Regions from separate parts of the Homo sapiens genome. Here region 1 is reported to be linked to region 2. The links are microRNA targets in miRTarBase. Many come from high-throughput screens and were not tested one by one. Region 2 holds a microRNA gene; the other region holds the end of a gene's coding sequence. Distances are between the middles of the regions.

What was found. Region 2 holds the annotated microRNA hsa-miR-638 (AGGGAUCGCGGGCGGGUGGCGGCCU, at 8,009-8,033, opposite strand). A microRNA usually pairs through its seed, bases 2 to 8, with sites in the 3' UTR of a target mRNA and lowers its output. Matches are read on the target gene's strand: a 7mer-m8 pairs with bases 2 to 8, a 7mer-A1 pairs with bases 2 to 7 and ends in A, and an 8mer does both.
Region 1: the mRNA of DACT3 is a reported target of hsa-miR-638. Seed matches in the 3' UTR shown: 7mer-m8 at 3,051-3,057.

What each region holds. Positions count from the first base shown.
Region 1 is chr19:46,640,174-46,650,913 of GRCh38, reverse strand. DACT3 (dishevelled binding antagonist of beta catenin 3) reads left to right here. Exons shown (of 4, transcript NM_145056.3): 4 at 1,042-3,363. The coding sequence ends at 2,432. Among named protein-coding and RNA genes, the nearest start is that of GNG8, 9.3 kb to the right of the region's middle. RefSeq lists a silencer at 2,416-2,465.
Region 2 is chr19:10,714,387-10,726,451 of GRCh38, reverse strand. MIR638 (microRNA 638) reads right to left here and starts at 8,048; the gene lies at 7,949-8,048. DNM2 (dynamin 2) reads right to left here and starts at 8,373. Exons shown (of 21, transcript NM_001005361.3): 1 at 8,049-8,373. The coding sequence starts at 8,209. RefSeq lists enhancers at 7,215-7,354, 8,795-8,914, 9,105-9,294 and silencers at 7,845-8,514, 10,646-10,835.

The DNA.
Region 1 (10,740 bases), 36 Mb from region 2:
GGGCTTCACTGAGACTGTAACATTTGAGTTGTGCCCTGAACTAAGTGGGGGAGTGGACCTAGCAGATATCCAGAAGGAAGAGCATTCCGGGCATCTGGAATCTGGAATGGGAAGCAGAAAGGCTCTGAGGCCAGAATGTGACTGGCGCCTGCTTTCAGGAGGCCAGTGTGGCTGGAGTCCTATAAGTAGAGGAGAAGGGTCAGCTCAGTGGTTCATGCCTGTAATCCCAGCACTTTAGGAGGCTGAGGCGGGAGGATTATTTGAGCCTGGGAGCTGGAGACTAGACTGGGCAACACAGTGAGACCCCATCCCTACAAAAAATAAAAAAATCAGCAGGGCATGGTGATGCGTTCCTGTAGTCCCAGCCGTTCAGGAAGATAAGGCGAGAGGATCCCTTGAGCCCAGGAGCTGGAAACTGCAGTGAGCTATGATTGCGCCACTGCACTCCAGCCTGGGTGACAGAGCAAGCAAGAACCTGTCTTAAAAAAAAAAGGCCAGGCGCAGTGGCTCACACCTGTAATCCCAGCACTTTGGGAGGCCGAGGCGGGAGGATCACGAGGTCAGGAGATCGAGACCATCCTGGCGAACACGGTGAAACCCCGTCTCTACTAAAAATACAAAAAAATTAGCCGGGCGTGGTGGCGGGCGCCTGTAGTCCCAGCCACTCAGGAGGAGAATGGCATGAACCCGGGAGGCGGAGCTTGCAGTGAGCCGAGATCGGGCTACTGCACTCCAGCCTGGGCGACAGAACGAGACTCCGTCTCAAAAAAAAAAAAAAAAAAAAAATAGGGGGTAAGATGTTGTGAGAGTTGGAGAGGCAGAGGCAGAGGCAGGACAAGTCACGCAGGGTCTTGTAGGACCCTGTAAAGATTTTATTATGAATTTTACAAGAAGGAAGGTGTGAGAGCAGGGTTTTTGCTGCGATGAGGATGGAAGGGAGGGAGGCAACCCGCCCCTTCCGGGCTGGATGAGAAATGGGAAAGGACTTTGAGAGCCCCTCCACTCTCTCTTTTTTTTTTTTTTTTGGCCTTCCTTCCCTAGGAGACGCCAGTCCCAGCGCTCCGGAGGTGGTGGGCGCGCGGGCAGCGGTGCCGCGGTCCTTCTCAGCGCCCTACCCGACGGCAGGGGGGTCCGCCGGCCCGGAGGCCTGCTCCTCGGCGGAGCGGCGGGCCCGCGCCGGGCCCTTTCTGACGCCCAGCCCCCTGCACGCCGTGGCGATGCGCAGCCCGCGGCCCTGCGGCCGCCCTCCCACCGACTCGCCCGACGCGGGGGGCGCAGGGCGGCCCCTGGACGGCTACATCTCGGCGCTCCTGCGCAGGCGCCGCCGCCGGGGGGCGGGCCAGCCCCGGACCAGTCCCGGGGGCGCGGACGGCGGCCCGCGGCGCCAGAACAGCGTGCGCCAGCGGCCGCCCGACGCGTCTCCGTCCCCCGGCAGCGCGCGACCCGCGCGGGAGCCCTCGTTGGAGCGCGTCGGGGGCCACCCCACCAGCCCTGCCGCCTTGAGCCGCGCCTGGGCGTCGTCGTGGGAGTCGGAGGCGGCACCCGAGCCCGCTGCGCCGCCCGCCGCCCCCTCACCCCCCGACAGCCCGGCTGAGGGCCGCTTGGTGAAGGCGCAGTACATCCCGGGCGCGCAGGCGGCCACCCGAGGCCTCCCTGGCCGCGCCGCCCGCCGCAAACCGCCGCCACTGACCCGCGGCCGCAGCGTGGAGCAGTCACCACCCCGGGAGCGTCCCCGGGCCGCCGGCCGCCGTGGACGCATGGCCGAGGCTTCGGGCCGCCGCGGCTCGCCCAGGGCCCGCAAGGCCTCGCGCTCCCAGTCTGAGACCAGCCTGCTGGGCCGCGCCTCCGCGGTCCCTTCGGGGCCCCCTAAGTACCCCACGGCGGAGCGGGAAGAGCCTCGGCCTCCACGGCCACGCCGCGGCCCAGCGCCCACGCTGGCGGCCCAGGCCGCAGGGTCCTGCCGTCGCTGGCGCTCCACTGCGGAGATCGACGCTGCCGATGGGCGCCGCGTGCGGCCCCGAGCCCCTGCGGCGCGTGTTCCCGGCCCCGGCCCGTCCCCGTCAGCTCCCCAGCGTCGTCTGCTTTACGGCTGCGCGGGCAGCGACTCCGAGTGCTCGGCTGGGCGCCTGGGGCCCCTGGGACGCCGGGGGCCTGCGGGAGGCGTCGGCGGGGGTTACGGGGAGAGCGAATCGAGCGCCAGCGAGGGAGAATCGCCTGCCTTCAGCTCTGCCTCCAGCGACTCAGACGGCAGCGGTGGCCTCGTGTGGCCGCAGCAGCTGGTGGCGGCCACCGCGGCCTCTGGGGGTGGAGCAGGTGCAGGGGCGCCCGCAGGCCCCGCCAAAGTCTTCGTGAAAATCAAAGCTTCCCACGCGCTCAAGAAAAAGATACTGCGTTTCCGTTCGGGTTCTCTCAAGGTCATGACTACAGTGTGAGTTTGGGGATTTGCTTGGGCTCCCCCTTCATGGCCTCTGCACCTCCACACTCCCAACCACTGACCCTTCCACATCTACCTTCCAAAGACCATCGTTTTCTCTGCTTCCAAAGACCCCCCTCACTCTCCCCACTCCTAACAGTCTTGGTTGAAAAGGCTCCCCCACCACCACCGAGAGGAATGGGGAGGAGCCCTGTTTGACCCAGTTCAGCTTCTAGCTTGGAAGCCCTTGGGCAAGACAGTTCCCCTTCTCTGGGCGTCACTTTCCTCATCTGTACAGTAAGTGTCCATGTATGCAAAAGGGGTAATTCGGTTTGAATTTCCCCGTTTTAGTTTAGAAGCCTAGTCTGTTTGTTCCCCTCCACCGCTCTCCCTCTCATTCCTGATGAGCCCTCTCATTCCTCCTTTCCTTGCCCAGCTATGGCCCCCTCTCATTCACAAAGTGCCCCCTCCATGTCCCTGGACCCTTAAGATATCCCCTTGGCACCCTGGTCAGAGACTCTGTGTCTGACTCAGGTGGTCCCTGCAGAGTGCCCTGGGAAGGGAAGGAGCACTGATTTGGGGGTTTTGAGGGTCAAGTAGGGGTTGGTAACACCTGGAAAGAAGGACTCTTTCACTTCGATCCCTGGACAATTATGGAGGATTCGGAGGTAGAAGAGGGGAAGGAAGATGGTTTCTATCTCATGACCCCCACTCCCTGTGAGAGGGAATGGGGGAAGCCTGATGACCCTCAGCTGTTCCAATCTAGTATTTTTTTTCTTTTTTAAAATTACTGTATTTATTATGACGATGGTGACTCCCCAGTGCAAAGGGGGGCCAGATTCTGTGTGTTTCTCTAACCTCTTTGTAAATAAATGCACAGTGTAACATATGTGGTGGACTCTCACTGAATGATTAAATGGGAGAAATGCTCTTTTTCCTTTGGACTAACATTTATTGAGCAACTTCTGTTTGCTGTGGATATGGCAGTTTCCAGGGAGGTCCCAGGGTGAATCTCAACATCATCTTCCTACCATTGGCTATTTTACATCAAGGAATCTAACCTTTGATTGGGTTATGTTTGGTTATAAATACGATTTCAGGCGGGATGTGATGGCTCATGCCTATAATCCCAGCACTTTGGGAGGCAGGGGTAGGGGGATATCTTGAGCCCAGGAGTTCAAGACCAGCTTGGGCAACATGGTAAAACCCCATCTCTACAGAAAATACAAAAATTAGCTGGGTGTGGTAGGTCATTCCTGAACTATCAGCTGCTCAGGAGGCTGAGGTGGGAGAATCATGTGAGTCTGGGAGGCCCAGGCTGCAGTGAGCCATGATTGTGTCACTGCACGCCAGCGTGGATGACAAGCAAGACCCTGTCTCAAAAAACAAAAAAATATGGTTTCACAAAAATGGGAACAGCATGGGAAACAGACAGCCCCTAAATCCCCTCTCTGACGGTCATCATAATCAGCAGTTCGATGTGCATCCTCCCATGTTTATGTGTTTGCATATATATATGAATCTAAATAACTATATAAATATATATGTATGAATATACATATAGTTATATATGTAATATATGTGTGAAATTATATATTTACATAAATTGAACTATATGTATGCAGTGTTTATCACTTCTTTGTGTGAAATCTCTGTGCCTGAAGATTTCTTTATGAGGAGGGTTTAAATTAAGGATTGAATTTCTTTGATAGTTATAGTACTATTTAGGTTTTCTATTTTTTCTTGTGTCAGTTTTGCTAGGCCCTATTCATCTAAGAATTTGTCCATTTCGTCTAAATCTACTTATTTTTTCTTTTGTTTTTTGAGATGGGGTCTTGCTCTATTACCCAGGGTGGAGAGCAGTGGTGTGATGATGACTCACTGTAGCATCAACCCTCAGGCTCAAACAGTCCTCCCACTTCAGCCTCCTGAGTAGCTGGGACCACAGGTCCACGTCACCCTGCCCAGCTATTTTTAAACTTTTTGTAGAGATGGGATCTCCTTATGTTGCCCAGGCTGGTCTTGAACTCGTAGGCTGAAGTGATCCTCCTGCCTTGGCCTCCCAAAGTGTTAGGATTACAGATGTGAGCCACCATGTCTGGCCCATTTCATCTAAATTTAGGTAACACATTTTCCTATCACTATATTATTATTGATAGGTGCATATAAGACTCCATTATGGCCAGGTGAGGTGGCTCACACCTGTAATCCCAGCACTCTGGGAGGCCAAGGCAGGTGAACCACCTGAGGTCAGGAGTTCGAGACCAGCCTGGCCAACATGGCAAAACCCTGTCTCTACTAAAAATACAAAAATTAACCAGGTGTGGTGGCGTGTGCCTATAGTCCCAGCTACTCGGGAGGCTGAGGCAGGAGAATCACTTGAACCTGGGAGGTGTAGGTTGTAGTGAGCCAAGATCACTGCACTGCACTCCAGCCTGGGTGACAGAGTGAGACTCCATCTCAAAAAAAAAAAAAAAAAAAAAAGAAGACTCCATTATGGGGATTCTCATAATCTAACCCTATTGTCAGCTCTCCAATTCTTTTGCTATTATGAATCTTGCTACAGTAATGTCCTTGTATTTGCCTCTTTGTGCATGTCTGTGTGTATTTTTATAGGACCCATTCCTAGAAATAGAGTTGCTTGGTCATTAATAGTATGCCAATTTAAGAACTTTTAATGGACACTGCCACACTTCCATCCATTAGCACTGCCCCCAGCTGACATTTCTAACAGCAGTTTTTCAGATGTCTGTTTTCTACCCCTTCACCAAACGATAGATGCTATTGATCATTTTCATTTTGCAAATCTTATGGGGAGAAACTGTGTTCTGTTTTAATTAGCACGTTTCCTCCCTTTTCCTTGAGGTAACACATAGTTTTGGGTGCTTATTGGCTCTTGCATTTCCTCTTATGTGAATTGCCTTTTTACTCTTTTCCTTCCTTCCTTCCTTCTTTCCTTCTTTCCTTCCTTCTTATTTTTTATTATTTTTTTTTGAGACAGGGTCTTGATCTGTCACCCAGCCTGGAGTGCAGTGGTATAGCTCACTGCAGCCTCGAACTCCTGGGCTTCAGCAATCCTCCCACCTCAACCCCCCTGAGCAGCCGGGACTAACAGGCATGCACCACAACGCCTGGCTAATTTTCCAATTTTTTGTAGAGATGAACTCTCACTATATTGCCCAGGCTGGCCTTGAATTCTTGACCTCAAGCAATCCTTGCACCTTGGCCACCAAAAGTGTTAGGATTTCAGGCGTGAACCACCGTGCTCGTCCTGTTTTTCTATTGGGTATGTAAAATTATACTCAGTTCTCAGGTGGGTAAATGGAGGCTTAGAGAAGAGCCATTACTTTCCCTGGTCACAAAGCAAGGGGGATCCAGGGCTAGGACCCAGCCCCCACCTGAATCCACAGTCAGAAGGATGGGGTGTGTGTTGCTGCTTTGACCTTTGAATCTGCATGGGTAGATCTACCTCCCTTTGAGCTCGGAAAGAGCAGGGACCAGGCCTGCTGTGTTCACTTGTATCTTCAGCGCCCAGCCAGGCACTGGGGTTAGAGCAGGGGACAAAACAGGAAAAAAAAACCCTGCCCTACGGAGCTTCTATGGTGGGGGTAGGGTGAGGGATAGACCTATGTTTCACTTAGAGTAATAATGAATAAAAGTTATTTTTAAAAGTTTTTCCAGGAAAAGCTATTGCTTGGCAGGTCCTTGGGAACAATTACTCCAACTTCATTCCATAAAAGGGGCAACTGAAGTCAGAAAGGAGAAGAGATTTGTTTGTCTAGGGCTACATAGGTCACTTAGTGGCCAAAATGGTTGAAGTAAATATGGATGGATATTTAAGGGTCTCCCTTTTAAGGTTTTAGTGCTTACAAAAAATAACAGCTAACACTTATTTGAGCACTTATGACGTGCTGGACTCTATTCTCACCACTTTACACATATTGACCCATTTAATCCTCTCCACCTGTATTAGTCTGTTTTCATGCTGCTGATAAAGATATAACCTGAGACTGGGTAATTTTTAAAGAAAAAGAGGTTTCATAGACTCACAGTTCCACGTGGCTGGGGGGGCCTCACAATCATGGCGGAAGGTGAAAGTCACGTCTCACCAGGTCAGGAGTTCGAGACCAGCCTGGCCAACACGGTGAAACCCTGTCTCCACTAATAATTAAAAAATTAGCCGGGCGTGGAGGCTGGGCGCAGTGGCTCACGCCTGTAATCCCAGCACTTTGGGAGGCCGAGGCGGGCGGATCACGAGGTCAGGAGATCGAGACCACCTGGCTAACACACTGAAACCCTGTCTCTACTAAAAATACAAAAATTAGCCGGGCGCGGTGGCGGGCGCCTGTAGTCCCAGCTACTCAGGAGACTGAGGCAGGAGAATGGTGTGAACCCAGGAGGCGGAGCTTGCAGTGAGCCGAGATCGCGCCACCGCACTCCAGCCTGGGCGACAGAGTGAGACTCCGTCTCAAAAAAAAAAAAAAAAAAAAAAAAGAATTAGCCAGGTGTGGTGGTGGGCGCCTGTAATCCCAGCTACTTGGGAGGCTGAGGCAGGAGAATCACTTGAACTTGGGAGGCAGAGGTTGTAAGGTTGTAGTGAGCCAAGATCACACCACTGAACTCCAGCCTGGGTGACAGAGTGAGACTCCATCTCAAAAACAAACAAACAAACAAACAAACAAAAATGTATCTGAAGCTCATAGGTGGCAAAGCCAGGATTCAAATTCAGGCACACTATTTTCAGAGTTCATGGCCTTAGTCAGTGCCCTACATGGTCTATTTGCTGGAACCATGATCTTAAAAAGGATATACCAGGAATGGGTCCCAGGGAGGGAAGCTGGGGGTGGTGGTGGTGGTACCATAATAAATATATTCTATAGTTTGTTAAAGGTGATGACTATAGGGAAAAACTGACCAGAGATATGAGGGGATTGGGTGGGGTGGTGAAGCGGGGAGTTTGTAATTTTACTTATTATTTTTTGAGATAGGGTCTCACTTTGTCACCCAGGCTGGAGTGCAGTGGCATAACCATGGCTCACTACAACCTTGACCTCCTGGGCTAAAGGGATCCTTCTGCTTCAGTCTCCCAAGCAGCTTGGCACACACCACCATGCATGGCTAATTTTTATTTTTTTTGGCAGAGGCAGGGTCTCACCATGTTGCCCAGGCTGGTCTCCAACTCCTAGTCTCAAGTGATCCTCCTGCCTAAGCCTCCCGAAGTGTTGGGATTACAAGCATAAGCCAGTGTGCCTGGCCAAGGGAGTGTGTAATTTTAAGTAGAGTGATCAAGAATGGTCTAATTGAGAAGATGGTGGCTCATGCCTGTAATCCCACCACTTTGGGAGGCCGAGGCAGGTGGATCACCTGAGGTCAGGAGTTTGAGACCACCCTGGCCAACATGGTGAAACCTCGTCTCTACTAAAAATACAAAAGTTAGCCAGGCGTGGTGGCATGTGCCTGTTGTCCCAGCTACTCGGGAGGCTGAGGCAGGAAAATCGCTTGTACCCGGGATGCAGAGGTTGCAGTGAGCCGAGATCGCGCCATTGCACTCCAGCCTGGGTGACAGAGCAAGACTCCGTCTAAAAAAAAAAGAATGGTCTAATTGAGAAGATGACATTTGAACAGAGACCTGAAGGAGGTGGAGGAGTGAGACTTATGAATATCTTGGGGAAGAATATCCTGGGCAGAGGAAATAGCCAGTGCAAAGGCCCTGAGGCAAAACTCTGCCTGGCATGTTGGCAAAACAGCAAGGAGGCCAGCTGGAGTGGGGAGGTGAGAGGGAGAAGAGGTAAGGACTGTCACATCATGGGGGCCTCGTGGGCTATGGTGGGGATTTTGGTTTTTATTTCCTGGCACCCATGGGAGAATTCTGAGCATATAAAAGAGAGTTTTTAAAGTTTTTTTTTTGGTGGGGGGGAGGGTTAATAGCTGTACTGAGATATATTCACCTACCAAAAAATTTACCCACGTAAAGTATACAGTTCAATGTTTTTAAATATATTGAATATAAAAGACATTCAGTATTTTAGTGGCCAGGCGTGGTGGCTCATGCCTGTAATCCCAGCACTTTAGGAGGCTGAGGTGGGCAGATCACTTGAGATCAGGAGTTCAAGAGCAGCCTGGGCAACATGGTGAAACCCCATCTGTACTAAAAATACAAAAATTAGCTAAGCATGGTGGTGCACGCCTGTAATCCCAGCTACTTGGGAGGCTGAGGCAGGAGAATCTCTTGAACTTGGGAGGCGGAGCTTGCAGTGAGCCGAGATCACGCCACTGAACTTCAGCCTGGGCAACAGAGCAAGACTCAGTCTCAAAAAAAAAGAAAAAACCAGTATTTTAGTATATTCAGAGTTGTGCAAATATCACCACAATGAATTCTAAAACATTTCCATCACCACCTAAAGAAACCCTGCACCACAGCTGCCATCCTCCAACCTTCCCAGCCCCTGGCAACCAGTAATCTACTTTTGCCTTCTATAGATTTGCTAGTTCTGGACATATCATATAAATGGAATCATACAATACAGGCCTTTAGTGACTGGCTTCTTTCACTTAGCCCAGGTTGGAGAGTAGTGGTGCAATCACGGCTCCCTGCAGCCTCTACCTCCTGGGTTCAGGTGATCCTCCCACCTCAGCCTCCTGGGAAGCTGAGACTGCAGGTACATGCCACCGTGCCTGGCTGATTTTTTAATGTTTTTTTGTAGAGACAGGGTCTTGCCATGTTATTCAGGCTGGTCTTGAACTTCTGGGCTCAAGCAACTTGCCTGCCTCGGCCTCCCAAAGTGCCGGGGTTACAGGCGTGAGCCACCGCACCCAGCCAGCATACTGTTTTCAACTTTCATCCATGTTGTAGCAGGTATTAGTACTTCATTTCCTTTTATTGACAAATAATTGATAGTCCATTGTCTGGATAGACCACATTTCATTTGTCCATTCATCAGTTGATGAACGTGTGTTGTTTCCACTTTGGGCTATTATGAATATTGCCTCTGTGAACATTTTTATATACGTGTTTGTATGTTTTTATTGCTCTTGGATATACACCTAGGAGTGGAATTGCTGGGTCATACGTTAACTCTATGTTTAACCTTTTGAGGAACTGCCAGGGTTTTTTTTGTTTTTTTTTTTTGAGATAGAGTCTCACTCTGTCACCCAGGCTGGAGTGCAGTCGTGCGATCTTGGCTCACTGCAACCTTCACCTGCCAGGTTCAAGCGATTCTCCTGCCTCAGCCTCCCAAGTAGCTGGGATTACAGGCGTGCACCACCATGCTCAGCTAATTTTTGTATTTTTAGTACAGATGGGGTTTCACCATGTTGCCCAGGCTGCTCTTGAACTCCTGACCTCAAGTGATCTGCCCGCCTCAGCCTCCCAAAGTGCTGGGATTACAGGCATGAGCCTCCACGCCCGGCCTGCCAGGTTGTTTCCTAAAGCGACTTCACCATTTTACATCCCCACCAGCTTATGAGGGTTCAGGTTGCTCCACATACTCACTTGCTATTATATGGGGACAGTTTGAAACAGTGTCCTTTTGGCTGCTCTGTGGGAAACAGGCTGAGGGGGACAGGGAGAAGATAGGAGGTCAATGCAGAGGTCACTGTAATAGTCCAAGCAGGAGGGAACGGTGTCTGGACCCAAGTGGGGACAGCAGAGGAAGTGAGAGGGATTGGATTCTGGAATTGCTTTGAAGATAAAGCCAACAGGATGTCTTACTTGGTGACTTGTGGAGTGTGAGAGAAGGCGGGGAGTCAAGGATGACCCCAGCCCAGGTGTGGTGGCTCACAGTTCAGGACCAGCCTAAGCAACATAGCCAGACCCTGCCTCTAAAAAAAAATAAAAAGTTAGGCTGGTTACAGTGGCTCACGCCTGTAATCCCAGCACTTTGGGAGGCTGAGGCAGGTGGATCACTTGAGGCCAAAGTTTGAGACCAGCCTGGCCATCATGGTGAAATCCCATCTCTACTAAAAATACAAAAAAAGTAGCCGGATTTGGTGGCACATGCCTGTGATCCCAGCTACTCAGGAGGCTGAGGCATGAGAATTGCTTGAGCTTGGGAGGCGGAGGTTGCAGCGCGCCGAGATTGTGCCACTGTACACCAGCATGAGTGACAGAGTGAGATTCTGTTAAAAAACAAAACAAAACCTGTTCATGGTTGTGCATGCCTGTAGTCCCAGTTACCGGGGAGGCTGAGGCAGGAGGATCACTTGAGCCCAGGAGTTCAGGCTGCAGTGAGCTATGATTGCACCACTGCACTCCAGCCTGGGCGACAGGCAAGACCCTGTTTCAAAACAACAACAAAAACTCAGAGATTTACCATCACTTGAGATGG
Region 2 (12,065 bases):
CAGAGCAAGAACATTGCCTGCACTGATAGGCACTCCATTTATATCAACAGAGTAATGATGAGTTCCTTCTCTTTAAGGAAAAAGAAACTAAGGCCGGGTTCGGCGGCTCACACCTGTAATTCCACCACTTTGGGAAGCCAAGGCAGGAGGATCGCTTGGGCCCAGGAGTTTGACACCAAACTGAGCAACAAAGTAAGACCCTGTCTCTAAAAAAAAAAAAATTTTTTTTTTTTGAGGCAGAGTCTCGCTCTGTCGCCCAGGCTGGAGTGCAGTGGCACGATCTCGGCTCACTGCAACCTCCGCCTCCCAGGTTCAAGCGATTCTCCTGCCTCAGCCTCCCGAGCAGCTGGGACTACAGGTGAGAGCCACCACACCCACCTAATTTTTGGATTTTTAGTAGAGACAGGGTTTCACCATGTTGGCCAGGATGGTCTCAATCTCTTGACCCCGTGATCCGCCCGCCTCGGCCTCCCCAAGTGCTGGGAATACAAGTGTGAGCCATCGCTCCCTGCCAAAAAAATTTTTTTGTAATTAGCCAGGTGTGGTGGCTCATGCCTATAGTCCCAGCTACTCAGGAGACTCAGGTGAGAGGACCACCTGAACCCAGGAGTTGGAGGCTGCAGTGAGCCATGATTACGCCACTGTACTCCAGTCTGGGGGACAGAGCAAGAGAAAAGAAACGTACACCTGTCATCAGAGTCCTGATCCCAGATAAAAGGAGACAAAAGCCAACCAACGAGATCACAAATGCTGCCTGTTTCACAACAATTTGCTACGTGATTCTCAGTCCACTCCCAGTAGGCAGAGACCACCATGTTCCCATTTTCCAGATGAGGAAACTGAGGCCCAGAGAAGTGAGGTCACTTTTTTGGTGTGTGGCAGAACCAAGCCTTCCATATTCCCACAGATCCCTCTGGACTGTACCAATTCCAGCAGGCCCAGCACTGCAGACCACCCTAACCGAGCCTTGCATGGCCTTTCCTTTTTTCCTTTTTTTTTTTTTTTTGAGATGGAGTCTCACTCTGTCCCCCAGGCTGGAGTGCAATGGCGTGATCTCCGCTTACTGCAAGTTCCTCCTCCTGGGTTCAAGTGATTCTCCTGCCTCAGCCTCCCAAATAGCTGGGACTAAAGGCATGCGCCACCACACCTGGCTAATTTTTGTATTTTTAGTAGAGATCGGGATTCACTATGTTGGCCAGGCTGGTCTCAAACTCCCAACCTTGTGATCTGCCTGCCTCGGCCTCCCAAAATGCTGGGATTACAGGTGTGAGTCACCATGCCCGGCCATGTATGGCCTTTTCAAGATGCAATTTGTCTTTGCCCAAAAGGAAAGTCACTGGAAACAGAAGATGTCATTTCCAAGTGGCTCTAAACTAATAAGATCTGTTAAAGGGACAAACCAGCCCAAGGAACACATCACGTGCCCCTCCATCTGTCAGGGACAGGAGCCAACGGGCATCCGATGTGCACTGGTGCAGCACCCACTGAGGCACAGGCAGTGCCCCCGCGGCTCATCCACATATCCCTGGAGGGACACATCACCAAAGGCCAAATAAAAACGCAGCTGGAAACGCCAGCATCCCCGGCACAGCTGCTTCTTATTAAAAGAAAAATGGCACGGGGCGCCTACATGCCTGTGGAGTCTGCTTACTGAGAAAACTGAGTTGAAGCTGGAAATCAAAGGAGAGAGCCCTCAGCTTGGCCAGGTCCAGAGGGACAGCAGTAGCGCCACCAGCTTTACTTCCCTCTGCTCAGACAGCCTCCCTGCCCACAATGTTCCTAGAGGCCTGGTCCCACCCTAATATCTCCCAGATCTGATCTCCCTCCACTGGCCTGCTAAACTGGCCTCCGGGCATCCTCCCACATCAGGACCTTTGCACTGGATTCTCTTCCCGTCTCCAGGGGTTCCTTCCTCGCCTCCTTCAAGGCTCTGCTCAAATGTCACCAATTTCCCTATTTAAAATGTACCCCCTCTGGCCAGGCGCAGTGGCTCACGCCTGTTATCCCAGCACTTTGGGAGGCCGAGGCGGGCGGATCACGAAGTCAGGAGATCGAGACCATCCTGGCTAACATGGTGAAACTCCATCTCTACTAAAAATACAAAAAATTAGCCGGGCCTGGTGGCAGGCGCCTGTAATCCCAGCTACTCGGGAGGCTGAGGCAAGAGAATGGCGTGAACCTGGGAGGCGGAGGTTGCAGTGAGCCGAGATCGCGTGACTGCACTCCAGCCTGGAAGACAGAGTGAGACTCCGTCTCAAAGAATAATAATATAATAAAATAAAATGTACCCCCTCCAACTGTGATCTCTCCCTCATCCTGCTCCTTGATCCTTTTTTCCATCATACTTATCGCCTTTTTTTTTTTTTTTGAGACGAGGTCTCGTTCTTCCGCCCAGGCTGGAAGGCAGTAGCGTGATCAGAGCTCACTGCAGCCTTGAAATCCCAGGCTCAAGCCATCCTCCGGCCTCAGCCTCCTGAGTAGCTGGGACTACAGGTGTCACCATGCCCAGCTAATGTTTTTATTTTTTGTAGAGACGGGGTCTATGTTGCCCAGGCTGGTCTCCAACTTCTGGGCTCAAGTGATCCTCCCGCCTGGATCCCAAAGAGCTGAGATTGTGGGCCTGAGCCACTAAGTGGCCCATGCTTCTCCTTTATTTGCTTCCTGCTGAAAGGCCAGCTCCTCCAGAGCAGAAGTTCTGGTAACTTGCTCAGGGCCATGTCCCCAGGCACACAGTAAAAGTACTCAGGAAACATTTTTTAATGAACGAACAACACCTAATGTTTTAAGCACTTCTTCTATGCCAAGCACTCCAAACTGTCTCACTTAATCCCTATTCAAGAAAGGGAAAGAAGTGCTATTATAACTCCTATTTTAAAGAAGACGGGGCTGGGCGCGGTGGCTTACACCTGCAATCCCAGCACCTTGGGAGGCCAAGGCAGGAAGATCACTTGAGGTCAGGAGTTTGGAACCAGCCTGGCCAACATGGCGAAACCCCATCTCTATTAAAAATAGAAAAATTAGCCGGGCACGGTGGCTCACGCCTGTAATCCCAGCACTTTGGGAGGCCATGGCCGGCAGATCACCTGAGGTCGGGAGTTCGAGACCAGCCTGACCAACACGGGAAAACCCCGCCTCTACTAAAAATACAAAATTAGCCAGGCGTGGTGGTGCATGCCTGTAATCCCAGCTACTCAGGAGGCTGAGGCAGGAGAATGGCTTGAAACCAGGAGGGGAGGTTGCGGTGAGCCAAGATCGTGCCATTGCACTCCAGCCTGGGCAACAAGAATGAAACTCCGTCTCAAAAAAAAAAAAAAAAAAATTAGCCAGGTGTGGTGGCTCGCAACTGTAGTCCCAGCTACTCGGGAGGCTGAGACAGGAGAATCACTTGAACTCAGGAGGCGAGATTGCAGTGAGCCGAGATCGCACCACTGCACTCCAGCCTGGGCAACAGAGCCAGACTCCGTCTCAAAAAAAAAAAAGAAAGGGAAAGAAGTGCTATTATAACTTGTATTTTAATGAAGAGGAGGCTGGGCGCAGTGGCTCACACCTGTAATGCCAGCACGTTGGGAGACTGATGCAGGAGGATCATTTGAGGCGAGGAGGTCGAGACCAGCCTGGGCAACACAGCAAGGCCCTGTATCTACAAAAAATGAAAAATTAGCCAAGCGTGGTGGCACGTGCCTGTAGTCCCAGCTACTTAGGAGGCTGAGAGGTAGGAGAATCGCTTGAGCCCAGGAGGTCAAGGCTGCAGTGAGCAGAGATGGTGCCACTGCACTCTAGCCTGGGTGACAGTATAAGACCCTATCTCAGGCCAGGCGCGGTGGCTCACGCCTGTAATCCCAGCACTTTGGGAGGCCGAGGTGGACGGATCACAAGGTCAGAAGATTGAGACCATCCTGGCTAACATGGTGAAACCTCGTCTCTACTAAAAATACAAAAATTAGCCAGGCGTGGTGGCGGGTGCCTGCAGTCCCAGCTACTCGGGAGGCTAGGGTGCGGGAATGCCTAAGGCCTTCCTTCTGGCCAGCCCCTGAGGCTAAATGACAAGGGTCAAGAGGGAGTGATGCCCTCCTTTCTCCTTAGGGCCAAAGTTCTATCTGCTGGTGCACCGCAGACAAGCCAGGGGTCTCAAACTCAAAGGTTCCAGGGCCAGGAGGCTCCAAGCAAAATGATCTAGGCCTGGGTGAGTGCTAGGGAGTAGTGGGGACTGTGGCAGCTGGAGTGGCCACTCTTAGTCTGATGGGACAGTGACTGGTGCTTCTGAAATCGAAGCCATTACTGCCACAAGGGACAAAGGCTCAGCAACGCCAGGTGAAACTGATTACAACAACAGCCACCATGCGTATAAGACACATGCACTCGGCACGCATCACCCAATCACCCATCTAGGCCCCAGGGTACCAGTTACCACCCTCAGCTTACAGAAAAGGAATCTGAGGCCCAGAACGCCAAATCCACGTGGCCGAGTCGCACAGCCAGACATGGTGGAACCAGGCCTTAGGCCCACAGCCTTTGCATGACAACTCAGAACTCTATAGATCTGAGTGTCTTAGAGCCACAAGAAATCCGGATATTGACTGGAAATCTAACACTGGAAAGTCTTATTAAAAACAAAAGCTACGCAGGTAAAACAAAAGACCCAGCAGGCAGGCCTTGGCCCCCAGAGCCAGTGATCTGGACTTCCAGCTATAGGGCTGAACTAACTGGGCTGTTCCCACTCGGACCACATCCTTAGAAAATCCAGGCTCGGCGCAATGGCTCACACCTGTAATCCTAGTGCTTTTAGAGGCAGAGGCAGGAGGATTGCTTGAGCCCTGGAGTTCGAGGCTGCAATGAGCTAGGACTGCACCCCTCCACTCCAACCTCGGCAACAAAGAGAGACCTTATCTCTTACACCCCCCCAAAAAAAAGTAAGCCTTGTTTGAGCCCCTCATACCCAAAGAGAGGCCTTTTTACAACTTTGGCTTTCAGGTACTGAATTAATACTCTTAACGAGGCCAGCCATGGTGGTTCACACCTTTAATGCCAGCATTTTGGGTGGCCGAGGTGGGCGGATCACCTGAGGTCAGGAGTTCAAGACCAGCCTGGCCAACATGGTGAAACCCCATCTCTGCTAAAAATACAAAAATTAGCCGGGTGTGGTAACGCGCGCCTGTAATCCCAGCTACTCGGGAGGCTGAGGTATGAGAATCGCTTGAACATGGGAGGTGGAGGTTGCAGTAAGCTGAGATAACACCACTGCACTCCAGCCTGGGGAACAGAGTGAGACTCGGTGTAAAAATATATATATAATGAGCAACTCCTGCATTGCAGGATTCTAGGAGGTCGCCACAGGAACCAGCTCCATACTGGCCGGCAGCTGCCAGACACCATGGTAGACAGGAGAGAAAGGCAAGGGGTAGAGGGACTGAGGAGAGGTAAGGATGGGAGAGAGACCCAGGTTCCCAACCCAGAACACCTAACTCCTCACTTTACAGCCTCCAGTGAGAGTGTTCTGCTCAGCTATCTGAGCCTCAGTTTCCTGCTCTGTAAAATGGGGATTATAGCAATGCCTCCCTCATAAGGCTTAAGTGTGTAACGTGAAAGCACTTTCATTCTGGTTAGCTTTTGTCCCTGATAGCAAAGGAACCAGCCAGATAAACAACAATAGCCCCATCCATGTAGACCTACTATGTGCCAGGCAGTGCGTTAGGTAAGTAAGCACTTTTTCTTTTCTTTTTTTGAAACCGGATCTGGTTCTGTCACCCAGGCTGGAGGGTAATGGTGCAATCACGGCTCACTGCAGTCTGGACATCCTGGGCTCAAGCAGTCCTCCCAGGGCCAGCCTCCTGAGTTGCTGGGACTACAGGTGTGGGACTACCACCCTACCTGGCTAATTTTTTTATTTTTTGTAGAATGGCATCTTGTCATGTTACCCAGGCTGGTCTTGGAACTCCTGGGGCGAGGCTTGGTGGCTCACACCTGTAATCCCAGCACTCTGGGAGGCCAAGGCATGAGGATCACTTGAGGTAAGTAGTTTGAGACCAGCCTGGCCAACATGGTGAAACCCCGTCTCTACTAAAAATACAAAAATTAGTTGGGCTTGGTGGTAGACGCCTGTAATCCCAGCTACTCGGGAGGCTGAGGCAGAAGAATGGCCTGAACCTGGGAGGCAGAGGTTGCAGTGAGCCAAGATTGCTCCACTGCACTCCAGACTGGATGACAGAGGGAGACTCTGTCTCAAAAAAAAAAAAAATAAATAAATAAATAAAATAAAATAAACTTGTTTAGGAGAGTCAACCAAGACTTAGAGAGGCCAAGACAACCTGTGCAAGGTCACAAGGCAAGTGAAAGAGACAGAGCTTTGCAAACACCCCCCACCCCCGTCCCAGAAGCCTGGGCAGGCAGGAAGATGGTCACTCAAAGGGGCCCACACCACAGTCCAGCCTGAGATCAGGCCAGGCCCAGCTGGCTGCAAGTCCACACCTTTCCACCACGGTAGACAGAAGGCAATGAGCTAGAGACAAGGTAGCAAAAGAGGAGATTTGTGCTGCTTGGAGCAAAGCCCCAAGGCTCTGGGATGGCAGACACAAGGCCTTACGCCAGCCTAGTGGCCTTGGGTGATCACAGTCCCTTCTGAGCCTCCCAGCTCAGCTAAGGTGGGGATGATAACACAGCCTCCACCCCACTCCTTACTTGGGATTCAAGATGTTGAATCAAGAAGGGACATTATCCCTTGACAATGATAACAACAATAACAATGACAATAATGACAGGAGGAGGATGTTATCATTTGGCAGCCACACCACCACAAATGAGTAGTTCCTGGAATGGAGAAGTGGCCGCCCATCTGGGAGACAAGAAAGGCAAGAGGGGTTGGTGGGAGGGAGAGGTGGCTGCACGGGCTGTTCTCATTCATTTGCTTCCTGAATCCTGGAAACAGCCCCAGAGAGTGGAGTTTGCCCACTGGACAGATGGGCACACCGCGGCTTCTCAAGGCTGTCCAGAGAAGGCTACATCCCAGCGCTAGCCACTGAGGCCTGATCACGCAAGAAGCCCCTTCCCAGGCTCCAAAGGAGGGCCCCCAATTTGTAGGCTGTAGCTGGGAGGCGGGCCCCTGTGTTCTAGCACTCGGAAAGGAATCCTGAAGTAAGGTACCCCCAGAGTCCTCCTTCCAGCTGAGAGGGGAAGTAGGGTCCAAACCTCCTCCTTCAGCTCTGTTCTCCCCTCTACCCTCCTACCACCCCTTTCCAGAGCCGTTGTGCCAGACACTCAGGGGTAGTCATGGGCAGACTAGGAGATGGCCAGACAGACAGAAGAATTCACACGGAAGAGAGGAGCCAGCGCTAGCCAGGAATCAAGCTGTAAGAGTCAGCCAGAGAGAATCAAACAGGGTCCCCTAGGAGTCAGCTAGCCAGTCAGACAGTAGAGGCCAGCTGGTGTCACCCAACAGAGGGACTGCTCAGTGTTAAAGTCTGTGAGGGGCACGGATGGGCGGCCAGACAGCAGAGGTCACCCTGGACAGCTAGCCAGACAGCAGGGGGCTGCCAGGTGGGACTGGACAGATGGACAACCAAATGGTGGTGGCAGGGAGGCTTGCCCAGGACAGAGAGACAGCCAACCAGACGGCGGGGGCAGCTCCAGATACAAGAACAAGCCAGCCAGACCGCAGCGGTCGCCCCAATAGATATCTAGATGGCCGGTTTCACCTCTGATGGACAGCCCGAAAGAGCAGAAGAGGGATCTACCCCAGACCCACGGCCAACCAGATGGCAGACTTCACCCACGAAAGCTGGGACCAGATGGACCGCAGGGTTCCAGCGCACCTCCTGTCCTACGGCGCCCTGGCCCGTGACACCGCCCCTGGGGCCCGGGCCTGCTCCGGAGCCCCTGCAGGGAGTCCTCTGCCCAGGGCGTCCCACAGGGCCCGCCTCCCCGACCCCGTCCGGTTCCCCGCCGCGGGCACGCAAGCGCCGCAGTTACGCCGGCGGCGCACGGCGCGCCATTCCCGGTCCGCCCTCCGCGCCCTAGGCCGCCACCCGCCCGCGATCCCTGCCGCGCCCGCTCACCGGCCCACGAAGTTCTCCAGCACCGAGCTCTTGCCGGCGCTCTGGCCGCCCACTACAGCGATCTGCGGCAGGTCCAGGTGGCAGCTCTGGCCGATGGAGCTGAAGGCGTCCTGCAGTTTGTTGACCAGCGGGATCAGCTCTTCCATCCCGCGGTTGCCCATGGCGCCGGCGGCCCCCGGCCCGAGCGCCCTGCGCTCCTCGCCCGCCGCCGACCCTCAACGACCTGGCCCCGCGGCGTCTGTAGCCGTTGCTCCCCGCCCGCCCGGGCCTCGGCAAGACGCCCGCTCCCGGCTCGGCCTCACGGTCGCCGCCTCATCCGGTTCTCAGGCGACACCCGACCCGAGCGACCTCCCGCCCCGGCCCCGGGGGCTGCGCCCAAAGCACTCGCGCCGCACGCGACTGGCCTGCTGCACCGCCACTCGGATACACTAGCCAATAAAAACTAGGCACGGGCCTATGGTTGAGTAAACCTTCCCCCTGGGGACCGTCTTGCTGACTTATTGGACAAAAGAACCGTCACTGTTGTGCAACAGCCAATAGCGGCAGAAAGCAAGTTGTCAAGAGAGGAAGGGGGTGTTTCCGAAAAAGGCACGTTGGCTCTGCCCATTGGCGAAGTTCCACCATCTTATTGGCAGGCAGACGTGCCAGTAGACAATGTGGACCAATGGTGTTGGGGATTGAGCTACTACCTCGTTCCCTAAGAATTTCCCATTGGTTCATATAAATATCACTTCGTTGCTCCAGCCAACCAGGCAAAAGAGGGCGGGCTTTAACATCCGAATCTTGACTATCATTGAGAACCATATCTGTCAATCAGAAAAACTCCCGTTCTTCCTTGTGATTGTTGGATGTCTGCAACAGCCTTCTGAAGTATAGGATAGATCCCACCGTACTCGCTCAAGGGCGACACCTCGTGGTGGGATCCGATGTCTCGATTTTTGAGTTTCCTGGCACTGGGGAAAACTACAAGTCCCAGAGCGCATCTCAGTTCCCAGACTGCAAACCAGCTCTGGGAGCAGGGTCCCAATGCGCTCTGCAAATGGTAGAGGCCAAGTCATTGCTTCCTAGGGATAGAACGCAATAAAATCACTCCTCCACGCCTTTGCAAATGCTGTGCCCTTTCTGCTCACGCCCGATCTTGACGCCGCTAACACTCCAATGTTTTCCCCCACTTCTTCAACTTTAGCAGATCATGAATCTTTTTTCTTTTCTTTTTTTTGAGGCGGGGTACTCACTCTGTCACCCAGGCTGGAGTGCAGTAGCGCGATCTTGGCTCACTGCAACCTCCGCCTCCCCGGTTCAACCAATTCTCCTGCCTCAGCCTCCCGAATAGCTGGGATTACAAGTGTGAGCCACCACGCCCAGCTAATTTTGTATTTTTAGTAGACGGGGTTTCACCATATTGGCCAGGCTGGTCTCGAACGCCTGGCCTCAAGTGATCCGCCCGTCTTGGCCTCCCAAAGTGTTGGAATTACAGGTGTGAGCCACCGCGTCTAGCTAATGAATCTTCTTTTCTTAGAAACTGGGTCCTTACTCTGTTGCCCAGGCTGGGGTGCAGTAGTGCACTCATAGCTCAATTCAACAAGCACCTGGGCTCAAACGATCCTCCCGCCTCAGCGTCCCGAGTAGCTGGAACCACAGACGTGCGCAACTATGCCCAGCTAATTATTTTTATTTTATTTTTTATAGAGACAGGGTCTTGCTGTGTTGTCCAGGCTGGTCTCAAACTCCTGCGCCCAAACGACCCTCACAGGCCGGCCTCCCAAAAGTGCTGGGATTACATGTGTGAACCCCCCCAACTGGCTTTAGATCTTTTTGAGTACCCACTAAAACTCAACAAATCCTCTCCCCGTGAAAAGACACGCTATTTTGTAGGCAAAATTGGGGTTCTGGGAACTGGAACTCCTGACAGTGGACAGAGACAAATAGGAGGATTTGAAGTGTTTTGACCCCTCTGGAGACAAATAGGCCAGAGACAAGGAAACCCAGTGAGAAGGCAGGAGCAGGTAAGTGCTCTGACCTGAGGCAGCACAAGAAGATGGAGAAAGAGGAGGAGGGTGGCTCATGGCATTTGCCTGTTTTGTGACCCAAAACCCCAGGTCTCAAAGAAATAGGCAAAAAGCGCCAGGTGCGGTGGCTCATGCCTGTAATCCCAGCACTTTGGGAGGCCAAGGAGGGCAGATCACCTGAGGTTAGAGGTTCGAAACCAGCTTGGCTAACATAGTGAAACCACGTTTCTACTAAAAATACAAAAAATTAGCCAGGCGTGGTGGTGCGTGCCTGTAATCCCAGCTACTCGAGAGGCTGAGGCAGGAGAATCGCTTGAACACGGGACGCAGAAGTTGCGGTGAGCTGAGATCGCACCGCTGCACTCCAGCCTGGGCAACAAGAGCAAAACCCCGTCTCAAAAACAAATAAACAAACAAACAAAAACGTTGAGGAAACTCTTCATGTACTGAAGTATAAATAATTTGAGATATACTAAGAGGAAAAAACAAGCAAGGTACAGAACTGTGTGTGAAGGATGCTGACATGCATGAAAACCATATGTACACACGGAAAATTGCTGGAAAAATACATAAATTGATAAAAGTAGTTGCACTTTTGATGTGATTTGAATTGTGGATTACATACATGTATTACTTTTTCACTTTTTTTTTTTTTTGAAACAGAGTCTTGCTCTGTAGCCCAGGCTGGAGTGCAGTGATGCAATCTCAGCTCACTGCAACCTCCGCCTCCCGGGTTCAAATGATTCTCCTGCCTCAGCCTTTCAAGTAGCTGGGACTACAGGCGCCTGCCACCATACCTGGCTAATTTTTGTATTTTTAGTAGAGATGGGGTTTCACCATGTTGGCCAGGCTGGTCTCGAACTCCTGACCCAGATGACCCTCCCTCCTTGGCCTCCCAAAGTGCTGGGATTGCAGGTGTGAGCCACCGCGCTTGGACTTTTTTTTTCTTTTCTTTTCTTTTTTTGAGATGGAGGCTTGCTCTGTCTCCCAGGCTGGAGTACAGTAGTGCGATCTTGGCTCACTGCAACCTCCAAGTCCTGGCTTCAAGCGATATTCCTGCCTCAGCCTCCAGAGTAGCTGGGATTACAGGCACGTGCCACCACACCCAGCTAATTTTTGTATATTTAGTAGAGATGGGGTTTCACCATGTTGGCCAGGCTGGTCTTGAACTCCTGACCTCATGATCTGCCCTCCTTGGCCTCCCAAAGTGCTAGGATTACAGGTGTGAGCCACCACCACGTCCAACCTTTTTTTTTTTTTTTTTAGACGAAATCTCGCTGTCTCTCAGGGTGGCGTGCAGTGGTGCGATCTCGGCTCACTGCCACCTCCACGTCCTGGGTTCAAGTGATTCTCCTGCCTCAGCCTCCAGAGTAGCTGGGATTACAGGTGTGAGCCACTGCACCTGGCCTACTTTTTCCATTTCAAAAACTTCATTTTTGAAGAGCACTGGTTTTTGTTTTTGAGACAGAGTCTCACTCCGCTGCCCAGGCTGGAGTGCAGTGGTGCAATTGCAGCCTCAACCTCCTGGGCTCAAGCAATCCTCCCACCTCAGCTTCCTCAGTAGCTGGGAGCACAGATGCACACCACCTGTATTTTTTGTAAAGAAGGAGTTTCACCGTGTTGCCCAGGCTGGTGAAGATCACTAGCTCTGTAACTGATCATATCTGGGTTAGATCCTGGGCCTGTTTATTTACTGATTATTATGGTCTGAATGTTTATAGACCAGCCCTCTACCCCATCACCCACCACACCAAGATTGACATGATGAAACCTAATCCCCAACATGATGGTAATTGGAGGTGGAGCCTTTGGAAGGCGATTAGGTGATTAGGTGAATGGGATTTGTGCCCTTATGTATTTTTTTTTCTTTTCACAAACCTGCTGAGCTTCTCACTGCGCCTTCATAAAAGAGACCCCAGAGAGCTGCCTTGCCCCTCCCGCCATGTGAGATTAGAGAAAAGATCGCCATCTAGGAAGTTTGCCCTCAACAGACACTGAATCTGCTGGT